Linked DNA regions of Homo sapiens: region 2 is linked to region 1. The links come from fine-mapping of genetic effects on gene expression. Tissue or cell type: whole blood. Region 1 holds a variant in brackets; the other region holds the start of a gene. All regions are shown on one strand. Distances are between the middles of the regions.

Region 1 (8,100 bases):
CAGTTTTCAAGCCAAGGCCGACTTTGGGATAGGGGAGATGTACCTGTACAGTAATGAGCTTCTTCTCTCGGGGTTTGCGGTCAGGCCATTCTTCCCCAAAGCAGAAGAAGATCTCGAAGGGTGGTGGGGTGTTGGTCTGGCCCTTTTGGAACAGGATGAGCTCTGCATCAAAATCAAGGTCCCTAGTCAGAGGCTGGAACCATGCCCTGGGCAAGAGGCAGCCAGGAGGATCACAGCTTTGGGCCCTCACCATTGAGAAAATGCTCCAGGCTGAAAAGCTTGGTCTTGACCTCCCGCTGGATGGGGTTGGGGCATGAGTCATGGGCTGAGGCACAAGGCCCGCTCCAGAACACCTTGCACTGACACAGGCGGATGGCATAAAGGTCCTGGCCCTGTAGCTGGAGGATGAGCCCGCGGTCCAGGACATCCAGCAGCTGGTTCGTGTAGAAGCGCTGCTTGTCACTGGGGATGTCCTCAGGGCTGGGGAAGCGCACTTGCTCCAGGCTTATGGGGCCGAAGAGTTCCACCTGCTCCTGGGTGGCCTCCAGCTGGCTGTAGAAGAGCCGGCAGCCATGGGGGTTGCTGATGGTGAGGGCCCGGGGTGGCCGCCCCCGGTACTGAAACTTGATCTCCAGGTCGGTCACTGTGGGGCAGAAGGCAGGCCCATCCCGTCCTTGAGCCCCACGCCTCCCCATTCTGCAGCCCAGTGGCCAGGCCCAGCCCCATCCGCCCTCCCACTTTTCCCACCCAAGGGAGTCCAGCACCCTCCACCCTCCTTGCCAATCCTACCCCAATCCCCCAGCACTGCTTCCCCGTGCCCAGCCATGGGTCCTTACGAGGCAGCATGTGGGGGCTGATCAGCAGGTCTGGCAGGAGCTGTTCGCCTGCAGGGGGCAGGCTGGCAGGCAGGGGCCCAGGCTCCAGGACCTCAGAGAGAAGCTCCCTGAAGCCAGCAGGGTTGCCAGGGGGAGGAGCCAGGGGGCTGGGGTCTGGAGCAGGGGGACCCAGCACCACGGGCGGCTGCAGAGTGGGCGGCTGCAGAGTAGGCGGCCGCAGAGTGGGCGGCTGCAGAGTGGGCGGCCACTTGACATCCTCTTTGAGTAAAGAATAGGGTGTCATGTGGGGGCCAGACTGCACTGCATCTACAGAGAGTGCGTGTGGACGGCTGTCAGTGCCACCTCCACGAACTGCCTCCCAGGCACACCTCCTCCCAGCCCTGGGCCACCCTAGCCTCCCATCAGCCCCCTTCCAGGTACCTATGGTACCTATAGCTTCTCTGTATACTAGACCCCCAACCACCACCTCCCGGCCCCACCTGTGAGGCTCAGGCTTGGCAACATCCTCTGCAGCTGAAGGGACACCACCAGCAAGGGAGGGAAGAGATGGGAGAGAAAGGAGGACAGGTTATTCCACTGACCTGGGGCTGGGGAAATAACAGGCGAGAACTATGAGGCAACTCCCCTAGCCTCAGTTTAGCTCAGGCAAGACCCTGCCTCCGGTCCCAGCTCGTCCATCCCAGGCAGGTCAGAAAAGCCCTTTGCCTCACTTTCCTCATTTGCCTTCTGCAGGGAGTCAGACCTACCAAGCCCCAACTGCTGCGTGGGTCACACACACAGGGTAATGACAATGCCCTGGGAAGGAGCAGGTGGGGACTGTGCTCCTATCGTTCAGAATCCCAGGAGAAGAAACAAGGAGAACTATTGAGAGGGCCACGGGGCTCCATGGGAGTGGGGCTGCGGAAACCTAAGGCCGATGGGGACAGCAGAGAGCTCGTCCAGGGCTCCACCTGCCTCCTCAACCCACACTCACCTCTTCCTCTTCTTCCTCCTCCTCTCCTGCACCAAAAGAGTAATCCTCAGGGGGCTGGGAGTCTGCACAGCAGGGAGAGAAAAGCAGGGCAGTAAAGGAGTCAATGTCGGAGGAGAAGCAAGATCCCCTGAGAGGCTGCCTGTAGCTCCTATGCAGCTTCTGCCTTCCCCAAAGCTGCCCCCAACACAGGGCGAGGTGGAGGGCACAGCCACCAGGATTGGGAAAGACCTCCCCGACTCCATGGGCCATGAGACCTAGGCTGGAGCCAGAAGCCAAAACGAGGGCAATGGTAAGGAAGAAGCACCCAGGTCCCTGACTGCACGCCAAGCCATTCCTGATATGCCAGTGACCCATCCCAGCCACTCCTGGAAGCCCTGGGTGTCATGACCTAGCGGGAGCCCCCGCATCGTTTCCTGGACCACTGCCTGCTAGAGGGGCCCTTGGCCTGCCTGCACCCAAGAGCTCATGGCTGGGGGCCAGGACATTGCACAGCCTCCCAGGTGGCCCACAGAGGGCTAGGCCTGATACCTGTGGGAGCAGGGCCATTGGAGCAGACCTCGTAGATCTTGTAGGGCTGAGGTGGCATGTCCCGGGGCCCGTCGTAGATGAGGCGGAAGTCCCGGCTCTTGTTAAGGGCACAGCGCAGGTTGGCCTTCCACTTGGCCGGATCGGCTTCATCCACGCCTTCGGTGTATTTCCCTGTCTCCTTGGCCCAGGCCTGGGGCAGGAAGAAATAGCCGACCACAGAGAACCTCATCCCTGCCACAGCCCCAGTCTGCCTCCTGTCCCATAGGAGACTCTACTGTGTGGGGAGAACTTCGGCTACAGGCTGAGCCTCGCTGAGCCCCAGACCTGGTTTGCAGCGTGGGAGTCTGCCACAGTCCTGCCCCAGCCCTCAGGCTGCCAGCAAGCTACATGAAATCTAGGGGCTATGAGATGCATCCATAGTCCCTGCTCCTGGGAGGGTGAAACAGTGTGATCTCTAAGGAGGACAGCGTGCGGGATAAGGGTGAGCACCCTGGAGCCAGGCTGGGTTTGAATCTGGAAGTGCCCCCCGCCAGCTGTGTGCCAGGCCATGTCACTGCCTCCCTTTGTCTTGATCTCCTCACAGTTGCCCACCTCATGGAGTGGCAGCGAAGACTCAAGGGGTTGATGTTGGCTGGGCACAGTGGCTCGCACCTGTAATCCCAACATTTTGGGAGGCCAAGGTGGGAGGACTGCTTGAGCCCAGGAGTTGGAGTCCAGCCTAGGCAACATAACGAGACTCCTGTCTTTACAAAAAATTAGCTGGGCATAGTGGTGGGTGCCTGTGGTCCCAGCTACTCAGGAGGCTGAGGTGAGAGGATTGCTTGAGCTGGGGAGTTCAAGGCTGCAGTGAGCCATGATTATGCTCTGCACTCCAGCCTGGACGACAGAGTGATACCCTATCTCAAAAAAGATGAGGGGAGTTGATGTCCGTAAAGCACTCAGAGCTAAACCTGCACATAGGACAGGCTCGAGACACTGGAGCTG[T/C]TGGTATTATTTTGAATGGCAATTAGGTGAGGTGAGGGTTACCAACATTTCTTTCTACCTTTTAACCCAGCTATTTGATTTCTAGGAATTCATCCTAAATATCATAGAAGCATTCACACAAAATATTGCACACACAAAGTTATTCGCAGCAGTGCTGTGTGTAAAAGATGACCCAAAATACCCAATGCAACATCCATCAATGAGGGGCTGGTGAAATTACGGCCAACCCATTGAATGAAAAATACTGGGCAGCACAAAAAAAGAAAAAGCAGGAAACTGTTTATAAGCTGACATGTAGCAATCGTCAAGAAGTATTAAGTCTAGACAAATATGCAGATATCTAGCATTTCTTATGAAAAGTAGAGGAAAGGATAGTTCCATATTTGCTTACATGTGCATAAAAATCTCTCAGGAAGGCTAAACAAGAAAATGACAACACGGCTGCCTCTAGGGAAAGGCTAGGGAGGGGAGTGGGTGGTGATGAACCAGGGAAGGAGGGAGACTTTTTGCTCTAAACCATTCTATGCCTTTTAATGTTGAATTTTGTGACTGTATTACCTATACAAAATAAATGGATTAGCAAAAGAATTTTGGAAAGGTAAGGATCAAGCCCAAAAACTAAGAAAATATGTACCCAAAGTTTTAAAAAATAAGCATTGCCTTTGACCCAGCAATTTTCAACTCTAGGAAATCAACCCCCAAAATAATTGAGGATGAAAAAAAGGGAAGCATTAAGACAGCCTACATGACAATGTGGTTTTTAAGTTCAGGTTTTAAAAGCAATCTCAAGTATCTAAAAACCAAGACTCAGTGACCAAATTGTGCTAAACCATTCCAGTGGAAATTCTACAGTCACGAAAAGTGATGTGGACGTATGTTGGAAAGGAAAGCTGATCCTGATATTGGGTGAAAAAAATCCAGGCTATAAATCAAGATATTCACTTGATTCCAATTTTGCATTCCATATACACACATGTGCAAAAAAACTAAAATGTAAGCAAAAACTATTATGCGAGGTACATCCTAGCATTAAGATTATTGGAGAGAGCACAGTGGCTTGCGCCTGTGATACCAGCTACTCAGGAGGCTGAGGTGGGAGGATCACTTGAGCCCATGAGCTTGAGACCAGCCTGGGCAACAAAGTGAGACCTCATCTTTACAAATATCAAAATCAAAAAATTAGGCTGGGCACGGTGGCTCACGCCTGTAATCCCAGCACTTTGGGAGGCCAAGGCAGGTGGATCATGAGGTCAGGAGTTCAAGACCAGCCTGGCCAACAGGGTGAAACCCTGTCTTTACCAAAAATACAAAAAAAAAAAAAAAAAAAAAAAAAAAAAAAAAAATTAGCCGGGCATGGTGGCAGGTGCCTGTAATCCTAGCTACTCGGGAGGCTGAGGCAGGAGAATTGCTTGAACCCAGGTGGCAGAGGTTGCAGTGAGCTGAGATTGTGCCATTGCACTCCAGCTAGGGTGAAAAAGCAAGACTCCATCTCAAAAAAAAAAAAAAAAATTAGCTGGGCATGGTGGCATGCACCTGTAGTCACGGCTACTCAGGAAGCTGAGACTGGAGGATCACTTGAGCTGAGTTGGAGGTTGTGCTATGACTGCACCACTGCTCACCAATGGTGCAACACTAGGCAACAGAGCAACAACTCATCTCAAAAAAAAAAAAAAAGAGTATATATGTACAGTTGTAGTACATCAATTAAAAAAAAAGATTGGGCCGGGCATGGTGGCTCACACCTGTAATCCCAGCACTCTGGGAGGCTGAGGTGGGTGGATTGCTTGAGTCCAGGAGTTCAAGACCAGCCTGGGCAACATGGCAAAGTCTCTACTAAAAGTACAAAAAATTAGCCAGTTGTGGTGGCAGGCACCTGTAATCCCAGCTACTCAAGGAGGTTGAGATGGGAGACTCACCTGAGCCTGGGAGGTCGAGGCTGCAGTGAGCTGAGATCAAGCCACTGCACTCCAGCCTGGGTGACAGAGTGAGACCCTGTCTCAAAAAAAAAAAAAAAAAAAAAAAAAAAATTGGAATCTGGTCAACAGTGTGAGGCCCTGTCTCTAAAAAAAATTAGAAAATTTAAACAATTGAAAGATTGATGATGTATCTGAATCTTATATTAAAAATAGTTTGTTCCCAACACAAAGAAATGACAAATGTTTGAGATTATGGATATGCTAAGTACCTGATCTGATCACTGTGCTTATCAAATCACCACTGTGTACCCCATAAATATATACTAATTTAAAAATAAAATTTTTAGAAAGATGATGATCGTTGGCTTCCTTTAGCATATGCGTGCACTGAACAAGTCCTCATGAGTAATAGGAGTGAGACGAGCAAAGGGTGAGTAGGACGAGTTATGGGAAGGCCTTCTGGGGACCCTCAGTCCCCACGATGCTCTAGGGTGCAGGTTAGAAAAGATGTGCCCTAGGCCAGGCGTGGTGGCTCATGCCTGTAATCCCAGCTACTCAGGAGGCTGAGGCAGGAGAATTGCTTGAACCCAGGAGGCAGAGGTTGCAGTGAGCTGAGATCGTGCCACTGCACTCCAGCCTGGGCTACAGAGCGAGACTCTGTCTTAAAAAAAAAAAAAAAGGAAAAAGGTGTACCCTGTGTCTACGTCTGCATCCCCTTAGTCCGGGCCCGGCATCAGCAGCAGCATGGTAGCTGGGCGGGTGGCCAGCCTCGAGGAGCTGCCTGTGTGCGTTATGTGCGCTCCTCTTCTGGGGACAGGGTGCCCTGGAGGTCCAGCCAACCTCCTCCCCGGGGCTTACCTTGAAGATGGTGTTATCTCCGTCCTGGCTGGGACCATGCCTTGTGGCATGCCTCCAGGGGATGCAGAATAATTTCTTTTCCCCGTTGACCCATTGAAGCCCTGGGTACTGGCAGCTGTTCACCTGGGCCACCAGCCAGGGCTTCAGCCGCACGCGGCGGGGTGGGGTGGGAGCCACTGGGATGGACTGGTTCATGGCAGAGGGGTCTGCAGGAGAAAGCCAGAGGGGAGCCTCAGCAGGTCTGCAGGTGGATGGGGACAGGGTACTCAGAGGTCAAGCTATGGACCACAAAGGATGGTCTCTCCAGTCCATCTAGGTATTTAAGGCCAATTCTCTTTTCCAAGCATCAGCTTTCTTGTCTAGTGTCATGGAATTTTGTGTTTGGAGGAAGGGAAGGAGAGTTACGAGTTAGTGAATGCTGCGGGCGCGGCCCCAGGTGCCCTTTACCGGGCAGAGGCATCCATTCTCCAACTGCTAACAGCAGCAAGCAGCCCGTTGGCCAGAGAACCGCCTTCCACTACTCACACCACAGGTTAGGCCCACCCCTTGCTCTTGGGGGGCAGCCCACAGCCAGTGACTGCCTGACACCAAAAGCCCGGCTGTCTTGTCTCAAGCTGGCTACCTGGGACAGCGAGCGCTCTGTGGGATCAGCCCGAAGACAGCCTCCTGCTCAGTCTACACCCCTAGTTCGATTCTTCCCTGCCCAAGTTTTCTCACCCTCCATCCCCTGAGAGTTCCCTCCGGAGATGCCCTCAACAAGAATCTCATCTGGAGCTCCCAAGGACACCTGCCCTCAGAGGAAAGCAGTTTCTCAATATCTTTAGAGAAATCCCATCAACCAACTCAACCCACCTCCAATGACAGCAGGCACCAAACAGATGTTACCTCTCTAGGGCCATTCATCTAGGTTCTTGGTCCTCCCCCTTCTCCTCCCACTGGACACGCATTCGGGTAGCACTTAGGAAGGCCCTAACGCCTGCCGGAGCCTGTTAGGAAGGCTACAGGAAACAGAAGCCACAGCTCTAACTGCTACCTACCCAGGGGCACGAGCCCCGCCTCCCAGGCCACAGCTTCACTGCCTCCCTGGAGTCAGGCCAGAGGGACCCTGCCTCCTCCCCTTCACCTGCCCAACTCCCTCTCCAGCCCAGAACCGGAAACTCTCCACAGTCCTGAGTCCCCTTCTGTCCCTCTCCTCCCCTTACCCATGCCCTTGGCCCTTCACTTGAGACCCCTGGGTGGAAGACAGAAAGGACTGGGTCATTACACAGCACAGCCCATCAGAAGTGAATGTGTCGGTCAGCAAGTAAGGAGCAAACGTTCGAGCTGAACTCCCTGTGTCTGGGCCTGCTTTGGCCTTGCAGCATGGAGCCTCAGTTTCCCCTGAAATTCCCTGCCCAGTACCTTTTGGGGTTGCACCTGCCTAGTGCCGCCTCTGAGCTGCTACTGTCTCACATTGCAGGCCTCCCTCAGAGCCCAGCTCTGCTGCCACCAACCCAGGAGAGGTAAGGCCGGCCCTTGCCTGGCCCAGGGGCTGGGACGGGGAGGTGTTCAGAACGCTCCAGCCCTGCCCTGGCCTCAGAACACGCGGGCTCAGTTCCGCTTTCTGCCCCAGCCTCCACCCGGCCCCAGGGGAAACGAAAGTGGCTAGACCGGGACAACTCAGAAACCAGACTCACTGTGGGCTGAGGGAGGGAGCCGAGTGGGTCCCCCAGACCAAATTTCCAACCTCCCACCCAGAGCTGTTCCCCGCACCCCAAACTTGCAGACAGTTTTTGTGCATTTAGTGTGGTTTATAACATGGGTGTGCACCCACCCATAGTTGTATCTGTAGACCCCTGAGAGGCCTTGGCCCTAGAATAGAGGGGTGCCAGTCACCAGCGGCACACAATTCTGGCCGAGCAAGGGTGGACAGAGGAAGCTCTGTCTGCACAGAATCGGGGAGAGCTTCCCTAATGACCCCCTGGGCTGAGGCCGTGCAGGCGCTGGTGCCGTTGGGGAGCTCAGA
Region 2 (8,100 bases), 110 kb before region 1:
AGTTCCTAAATACCTCTCTATCTCCATGCCCACCGCCAACACTTTACTCCAGGCTACCATCACTCCTCACCACGATTATTACAATCTTTTCTTATTTCTGTTCTAGCCACCTTCCCTGCCCAAGCCATTTCATGTCAAACTAGACTTTTTTTTTTTTTAAGACTAAGGAACAAAGAAACATGTCACTTAAGACATTTGCTAAGCACCCACTATGTATCAGGTAATGGCATGAGGTCACAAAGATGGGTTAAACACTGTTTAGCTTCATTTCTTACTCCTACCCAATGTCAACTCTATCCTTCAGCTACTTTCAGTCTTCAGAAGGTAATTTTTTCCCTTGCCTCCAGGCTTTCATACTGTTGCCTCTGCCTACAATACTAAACCCTTTGCCTAATTGCTTCCTATTTATCTATCAGTCTGGTCTCAGTTTAGACATAATTTCTCCAGATGGTGTTACCAATCTCTCTACTCTGGGTTAGGTATCACCTCTATTTTTTTTTCTTTTTTCTCCAACTGTTAGCTAAATATCCATGTGGTGTTTTAATAATTCCTAACCATAGAACTTTTAAAAATAAGTTTTATTGAAATATAGTTCACATTGCCATAAAACTCATCCTTTTAAAACATATAAAAAACATATGCCAGTGGTTTTTAATATATTCATGAGGTTTTTCTGAACATCGTCAATAATTCCAGAGCATTTATTTCCATCAATACAAAAAAAAACAAAACCCAAAACAAAAAACCAACCCTGGAAATGACCAATCTACTGTCTATATTTAGAATTTTGCCTACTCTGAACATTTTATGTAAATAGAATCGCGTAATTAATGTGCCTTTTGTGTCTGGCCACTTTCACTTAGCATAATTTTTCAAGTTTATCTATATTGTAGCATCTATCTGTACTTCATTCCTTTTAAGGGTCAAATAACCTTTCATTGTATGGATATAGCACACTTTGTTTATCCATGCATCAAATGACGGATATTGGGGCTGTTTCTGCCGTCTATTATGAATAATGCTGCTATGAATATGCACGTGCAAGTGCTTGTATGCACACACGTTATCATTTCTCTTGAGTATATACCTAAGTGTAGAACTGCTGGTTCATATGATAATTCTATGTTTAACATTTTTTTGAAGAGCTGCCAAACTTTTTCAACATGGCCGCACCATGATACAATCCCATGAATAGTGCATGAGAGTTCTGATTTGTCCACATTCTCACCAGCATTTATCATTTTTTAAATTTTAGTTTTTCTAGTGGGTGTGAAGTTGTATCTCATTGCAGTTTTGATTTGTATTTCCCTGAGGGCTAATGATGAGCATCTTTTCATGTGCATTTGTATATCTTCTTGGAAGAAATGTCTATTCAAATTCACTGCCCATTTAAAAAACTGAATTATCTGAGGCCAGACATGGTGGCTTACGCCTGTAATTCCAGCACTTTGAAAGGCTGAGGCGGGTGGATCACTTGAGGTCAGGAGTTCGAGACCAACCTGGCCAACGTGGTGAAGCCCTGTTTCTACTAAAAATACAAAAATCAGCCAGGCATGGTTGTGGGCACCTGTAATCCCAACTACGTGGGAGGATGAGGTACAAGAATCGCTTGAACCCAGGAGGTGGAGGTTTCAGTGAGCTGAGATTGTGCCATTGTACTCTAGCCTGGGCAACAGAGCAAGACTCCAACTCAAAACAAAAAAACAAAACACACACACACACACACACACACACAAAACAAACCCAAAAACTGAGTTGTCTTTTCATTGTTGAATTGTAAGAGTTCTTTATATACTCTGGATACTAATCAGTTATCAGATATGTTATTTGCACATTCCCTTCCATGTTGTGGACTGTTACTTCACTTTCTTGATAGTGTCCTTTGATACACACAAAAAAATTTGTTTTGAGATATGGTCTCACTGTTTCCCAGGCTGGAGTGCAGTGGCACAATCTCTGCTCACTGCAACCCCCACCTCCTGGGCTAAAGCAATACTCCCACCTCAGCCTCCTGAGTAGCTGGGATTAGAAGCACCCACCACCATGCCCTGCTAATTTTTTTGCATTTTTTTTTGTAGAGATGGAGTCTCATTTCATTACCCAGGATGGTCTTGAACTCCTGGCCTCAAAGGTAATCCTCTTGCCTCGGCCTCCCAAAATGCCGGGATTACACAGTTGTGAGCCACCAAGCCCAGCACTAAATTTTTTTTTAATGAATGAATGGATTAGGTAACCAAAATATCAAGTTTCTTTTTTCTGTCTAAAATTGTATCAACTCTGTGCAGTAACATTGTTTTCATCATGTTGTTGGCAGTTAAAAATTCCTTGACTAACAATTCAGAAGCAAACGAATGCACAAGATGATAGGGATTGTGTGATTTAACAGGTTTTGGAGCAACACTGATCTGGATTCAAATCCTAACTTTAAGAACTGTATCCTTGGGCAAATTACATTACTATTTTTCTTTCTTTAAAATGCGTTTTTTTGTTTGTTTTTTAAGTGCCAGGGGTTTATTTCCCTCACATGTGGGATGGCTCACATACACAACACACAAAGGCGTTGGCACCGTGGGAGAGGGCAGCACCCCTGGCTTCTGCTTGGCCTCACAGTGTAAGAAGGGAGAGGATGGGTTCTCTCTCCTCCCCTCACTAGGGCCTAGGGGACCCAGGAGCAAATTCCATCCCTTTCACCTCTCAGCCAAGGAGAAGCCACATTGGTGACATTTAGTTCCAACAATTACAGTAAGTGGAGAAGGGATTGGTCTGGTCCCGACCATTACACGGTGAAGGTATACATAGTAAAGGAAGATACAGTTTGGATGAGGCCACAATAGGGTGCAGATGACACCATCAGAAGCATGTGCAGGGGAGGGGCAGTCACTCAGCTTCTGGGCTGCTTAGTTCCTGGGTTGGCAGGAAGGGTAGGGAAGACGGATGGGGCTCATTGTTTGGCATTGATGATGTCTACGAATTCGGGCTTGAGGGAAACACCACTCATGAGGAAGGCAGCCACGTCAGGCTGGCTGGCCAGCTCCTTGCAGGTTGCCTTGGTCACAGAGCCTCCATAAATGATACCAGTGCTCTGAGCCACTGCATCAGAGATGTTGGACTTAAGCCATCCTCGGAGCTTCTTGTGTACCTCCTGGGCCTGTTGGGGTGTTGCAGTCTTGCCAGTACCAGTGGCCCACACGGGATCATAGGCCAAGATGACCTTGCTCCAGTCCTTCACATTATCTGCGATGACCTTTGTCTGCTCAAAAACAACCTTCTCAGTGATGCCAGCTTCCCTTTCATCTAGCTTCTCCCCAATGCAGGCGATTACTCCGAGTCTCTCTGCCAGAGCATGGGCCACTTTTCTGCCCAATCAGCTCATCTGACTCCCCAAAGACACGCCTTCTGAGTGCCCCAGGACCACACCACCCACGTGACTCCTAAGTCTTTGACCATGCCAGGGCTGATCTCCCCAGTAAAGGCCCCATTAGTCACTTTGTAGCAGTTCTGCGGAGCCACAGCAATCTTGGGAGCTAGCTTCTGCCGGGCCAACTCGTTATACGCAGTGGCGAGAGCACAAATCACCTTGGTGTCGGCAGGCACAGTGGCCGCGTTCTGAGTGCCGATGAGCTCCCCCAGACATTTCTTCCGCCCGTTCATCTTCCAGTTCCTCCCCACGAAGAACTTCCTGGAGGGCGCCATGGCGCTGGAGCTGAGGCGCTGTAGGTCAGTGTCAGCGCCTAAAACGGGTTTTATTAATACTTGGCAAGGTTGTTAGGCGGATTAAATGAGATCTTGTAACTACAGTGTTTTACACATTGTGATCATTTATCAAATAGCAGTTATTTACTAGTGCAAAGGACTAGCAGCAATGTTAATATCAATATACTGTTACCTTTTGTCCCTAATTTCTCCATAGTACAGTTTCCAATATTTCTGTTTTCTTTTGTGAATTGTTAGACCACTGGTATTGGATTCGGACAGAAAGGCATTCACAAAAATACAGTTCAATGTGAGAATAACCCTAAAGATGTATGCAAAATGCTCTGGAGTTAGAGCACCAGGAGCTGTAAGCAGAATGAAGACCTCTTTTGGGCTTAAGAACTAAGTAAAGGGGAGCTGAACAAAGATTCTAGGCATTTTGGATTTATCTCAATGTGGCACATATTTCAGGTTTGTAAAATAGTTCAGTTGACTACGTGTCTGTCTCCTCCACTAGAGCCAGCGTAGGTACCATGTCTTAAGTCATCTTTGGATCTCCAGTACTGTGGCCACTCTAGGGAGAGTTGAATTGACGCGCCTTGATCACCAGGGCAGAAAAGGATTCTCTGGAGAGGGATGGGGCAGTCGGAAGGGGTAGGAAAAACCTGGATCCGTTTCCAAGGAGCTGAAGGCAGCTCAGATATGGGGCACATCTCGGCGCTAATGTCCCAAGCTGCTAGCGAGGAACAGAGAGAACACCGGCTCTTCTTCCCGGCTCCTGGCCCGGCAGGGTTACTTCCGGGAGGGGGCGGGGAGACAAGAGGAGGCGTGCCGGGAAGGAGGCCGTTTGTAGTGTACCAGGCGGAAGTGTGCCAAAGGTATCGGTGCTGTCGCTTCCGGTCCGGGTAAACGAACCTTAGGTACACTGGTGTGTGGCCTCCCAAGATAGGCTTCTGAGGGCAAGTCAGCGACTGAAGACGGGAGCGCCAGAATCTGTGGACTCAAGAGTCTAGAATCAAGTGGAAAAACCGGAAAAAAGGCCAGGAACCTGAATACGACCTAATAGCTGTTTCCGAGGGGGCAACTTCCACGGAGAGCCTTCTGCCCTGGTAACGGCCAAAGAGGAGGAGATGGCGCCAGTCAGGGAGCGGCCGTGGCCCAGACAGTGAGGAAGCGCGAAGGCGGAGCAACCGAGGAATCCTCCGGAGAAGAATCAGAGCCGTCGCTACCGCCACTACCGCCACCACCATGGAAGGAGCAAAGCCGACATTGCAGCTCGTGTACCAGGCAGTGCAGGCGCTTTACCACGACCCAGATCCCAGCGGAAAGGAGCGCGCCTCTTTTTGGCTTGGGGAGCTGCAGCGTTCGGTGAGGGGCCCAGAGAGGCAGTTCTGTGCCGCACGGCCGGGGCGGGGTGGAACCTAGGCTCCGGGGGAGAACCTGAGCCCGGCAGTTGACCTCGTGAGGTCCTCCTTGGGGAGGAGCTGCTGTCGTGGGGTGGGGCTGCGAAGCTACATCTTTGCCGCTTTTGGGAAACTAGTCGCACCTGATCGGTCGCGAACTGGCCCTTTCCCCACCCGGCAGAATCTGATTTGTAGGTCTTATACTCTTCGATTGTGGCATCAATCTAATCTTGTTTAAGTTCTCCCTTTGCCGTTGCTTCTTGGGCCGTGCTTTTCCGTTTTGTCTTCCTCCCACCAAATCCAACCCCAGTGTTTCTCCACCTTCCGCTTAAGAAGGCTTTATTCGTCTCCCCTCCGTGTCCAAGACTTGCATCTGGCATTTTGCTCCCAGTCGTAGCCTTATGCCTCACTCTTTTTGCCTATTTTCACTCCAGTTTGAGTCTGTTCTTCTCGAAACTTCTCAGGTTTCTAGATTCTTACTCATGCGAGTTTTCCCCTTGCTTTGGAGTGGCAACATAATATGAAGAAAAAACAGTAATTCTGCTTTCAGAAAATCTTTGGAGTTCTCATTTTGTTTCATATTAATCCTCTAACCTTGTTATTTCTCTGGCTTTTAGATTTTTATTTATAAGATGGGTATCACTGCTGCTTTGATTATTCCATATAAAACTGTGTGTGCATCCGGTGAGATATTTAATTGTAGCTTATATCTGTTGTATTTCTGCATTCTTTGATTCATGTTTTATGCTTCCTGCCCTAATTTTCACACCTTTGCTGTGCTTCATTTCTGTGTAAATGTGTATTCTTGGTTATCTGGCTGACTTAGGTTCTAATGTAGGATGTACTTTAAAAATTAAGTACTTTGAAAACTAAAGAGGCTTTTTTTACAGGCTGACAAAATACTCACCTTTACCTTTATTTTTGCATTTTATACTCACAACCATATTTTTTTTGGCCCCCTTCCCTTTATTTTAACTCATAACTGATACTTAAAGGTGCTCTGCCTTATTAAATCAGCTCCTAGGCTGCAAGTGCATAATATTTAAAAATTTGCAACTTTGACTTTTTAAAAATCTGGTCTTGGTATGGAGCAACTTTGCCTTTTTTTTTTTTTTTTTTTTGAGACAGAGTCTCGCTTTGTCGCCCAGGCTGGAGTGCAGTGGTCCCATCTCAGCTCACTGCAACCTCCTCCTCCCGGGTTCAAGAGATTCTCCTGCCTCAGCCTCCCGAGTAGCTGGGATTACAGGTGCCTGCCCTGACACCCGACTAATTTTTTTTTTTTTTTCTTGAGACAGAGTCTGGCTCTGTTGCCCAGGCTGGAGGAGTGCAGTGGTGCTATCTCGGCACACTGCAACCTCCTCCTCCCAGGTTCAAGTGATTCTCCTGTCTCAGCCTCCTGAGTAGCTGGGATTACAGGCACACGCCACCACACCCAGCTAATTTTTGTATTTTTTAGTAGAAACGGGGTTTCGCCATGTTGGCCAGGCTGGTCTCTAACTCCGACCTCAGGTGATCCGCCCGCCTCGGCCTCCCAAAGTGCTGGGATTATAGATGTGAGCCATCGCCCCCCGCTGCAACTTTGACTTTGAATATTAAACCTAAAAAACTGGCACCCAAGTCCTCTTCAGAAAATAAAGGAATACGACTCACTGTAGGCTACACAAGAAAATCATTCACATATGGTCTCATTTAGTGTTTCTGTGATCTCTGGAGAGTCAACAATTCCCTGATCTTTGTATAGTTTTCTAAAGTGTAATTAGGAGAAGTGCTACACTATACTAAAAAAGTAATCTCTTTCTAATTAAACCTGCTTGTTGTGTGTATTTTAAATCAATATTTGAGTGCTTACCATGTGCCAGCAACTATGCTGGGTGTTTGGATTTGGAAATGAACCAGACAAAAATCTCTGCTTACCACAGAAGGTAGTTGTGATTAAATGAGTTAATATTCTACGAAGAGGTTAGAAAAGTTCTTGGAACATAGAGATTAAAATGTTAGCAATTGTTATTTAAGTATTAGTCACTTTTCTCTCCTTACTTTCCAATACTCTATTACAACCTTACATCATCTTCACCATCACAGTTAATAGTCAGAGTCCAGACAGGAACAGATGGCACACTTGACAGGATAATCTGAGTTTATTTTATAAAGATACTATTATAAAGATTTAGGTATAGTGGTGTGACAAGAAATAGTTTGGTAACCTATAGCTGAACGGTTAACATCCCATAAAAGAGGGAATAGTTACTTGAAAAGTATGGAGTTGGCTGCCTTGAGAGGAATGGTGACTTTCAGCCGAAGGGACATAGCTAGTTTCAGGTGACCTTGAGAGAATGAAGCTGGAGGAATGAATATCCTGACCCTGTTCTCTTAATTTCTTGCTGGGATTCCCCATTGGCCAAACCCAACCGGAAGCCAGGGGCACAGTGACCTGTTGGTAAAGTCTATACAGGTCAGCCTATTGGAGCAGAAAACATGATAGAGGAGGGTGGAAAAGTGGATCTGGAAAATATCCAGCAGTAACACATCACGTTTAGGCAACTTCAGCATCTGGATTGACAGTTCAGCTAACACTTTGGCCTTCTGATTCCTTTACCTCTTCATTCTCTTTAGCCACCTGGTCACACAATCACACCCTGGATCTTGTCTTTACTAAAAAGCCACCACCCAGGCTGGGCGTGCAGTGGCTCACGCCTGTAATCCCAACACTTTGGGAGGCTGAGGCGGGCGGATCGCTTGAGGTCAGGGGTTTGAGACCAGCCTGGCCAACATGGTGAAAACCCGTTTCTACTAAAAATACAAAAATTAGCTGGGCGTGGTGGTGCGCACCTGTAGTCTCTGCTACTCAGGAGGCTGAGGCAGGAGAATCTCTTGAACCCAGGAGGTGGAGGTTGCAGTGAGCTGATATTGTGTCACTGCACTCCAGCCTGGGCGACAGAGCGCGACTCCATTTCAAAAAAAACAAAAAAGTTGCCAGCCAGGCCAGGCCCATTGGCTCTTGCCT

What was found. PIP is the estimated chance that this variant, and not a neighbour inherited with it, causes the effect.
Region 2: TNPO3 starts here. The variant in region 1 is fine-mapped to the expression of TNPO3 in whole blood (TOPMed, PIP above 0.99).

What each region holds. Positions count from the first base shown.
Region 1 is chr7:128,940,272-128,948,371 of GRCh38, reverse strand. It overlaps IRF5 (interferon regulatory factor 5), which reads right to left. Exons shown (of 9, transcript NM_001098629.3): 2 at 6,096-6,301; 3 at 2,338-2,527; 4 at 1,810-1,871; 5 at 1,316-1,349; 6 at 837-1,142; 7 at 251-643; 8 at 44-162. The coding sequence starts at 6,290. Among named protein-coding and RNA genes, the nearest start is that of IRF5, 6.4 kb to the right of the region's middle. RefSeq lists enhancers at 7,589-7,638, 7,749-7,978. The variant T/C (reference allele first, on the strand shown) is at 3,322.
Region 2 is chr7:129,051,612-129,059,711 of GRCh38, reverse strand. TNPO3 (transportin 3) reads left to right here and starts at 4,601. Exons shown (of 23, transcript NM_012470.4): 1 at 4,601-5,061. The coding sequence starts at 4,942. It also overlaps the pseudogene TPI1P2. RefSeq lists a silencer at 3,463-3,757 and enhancers at 3,463-3,757, 4,569-5,068.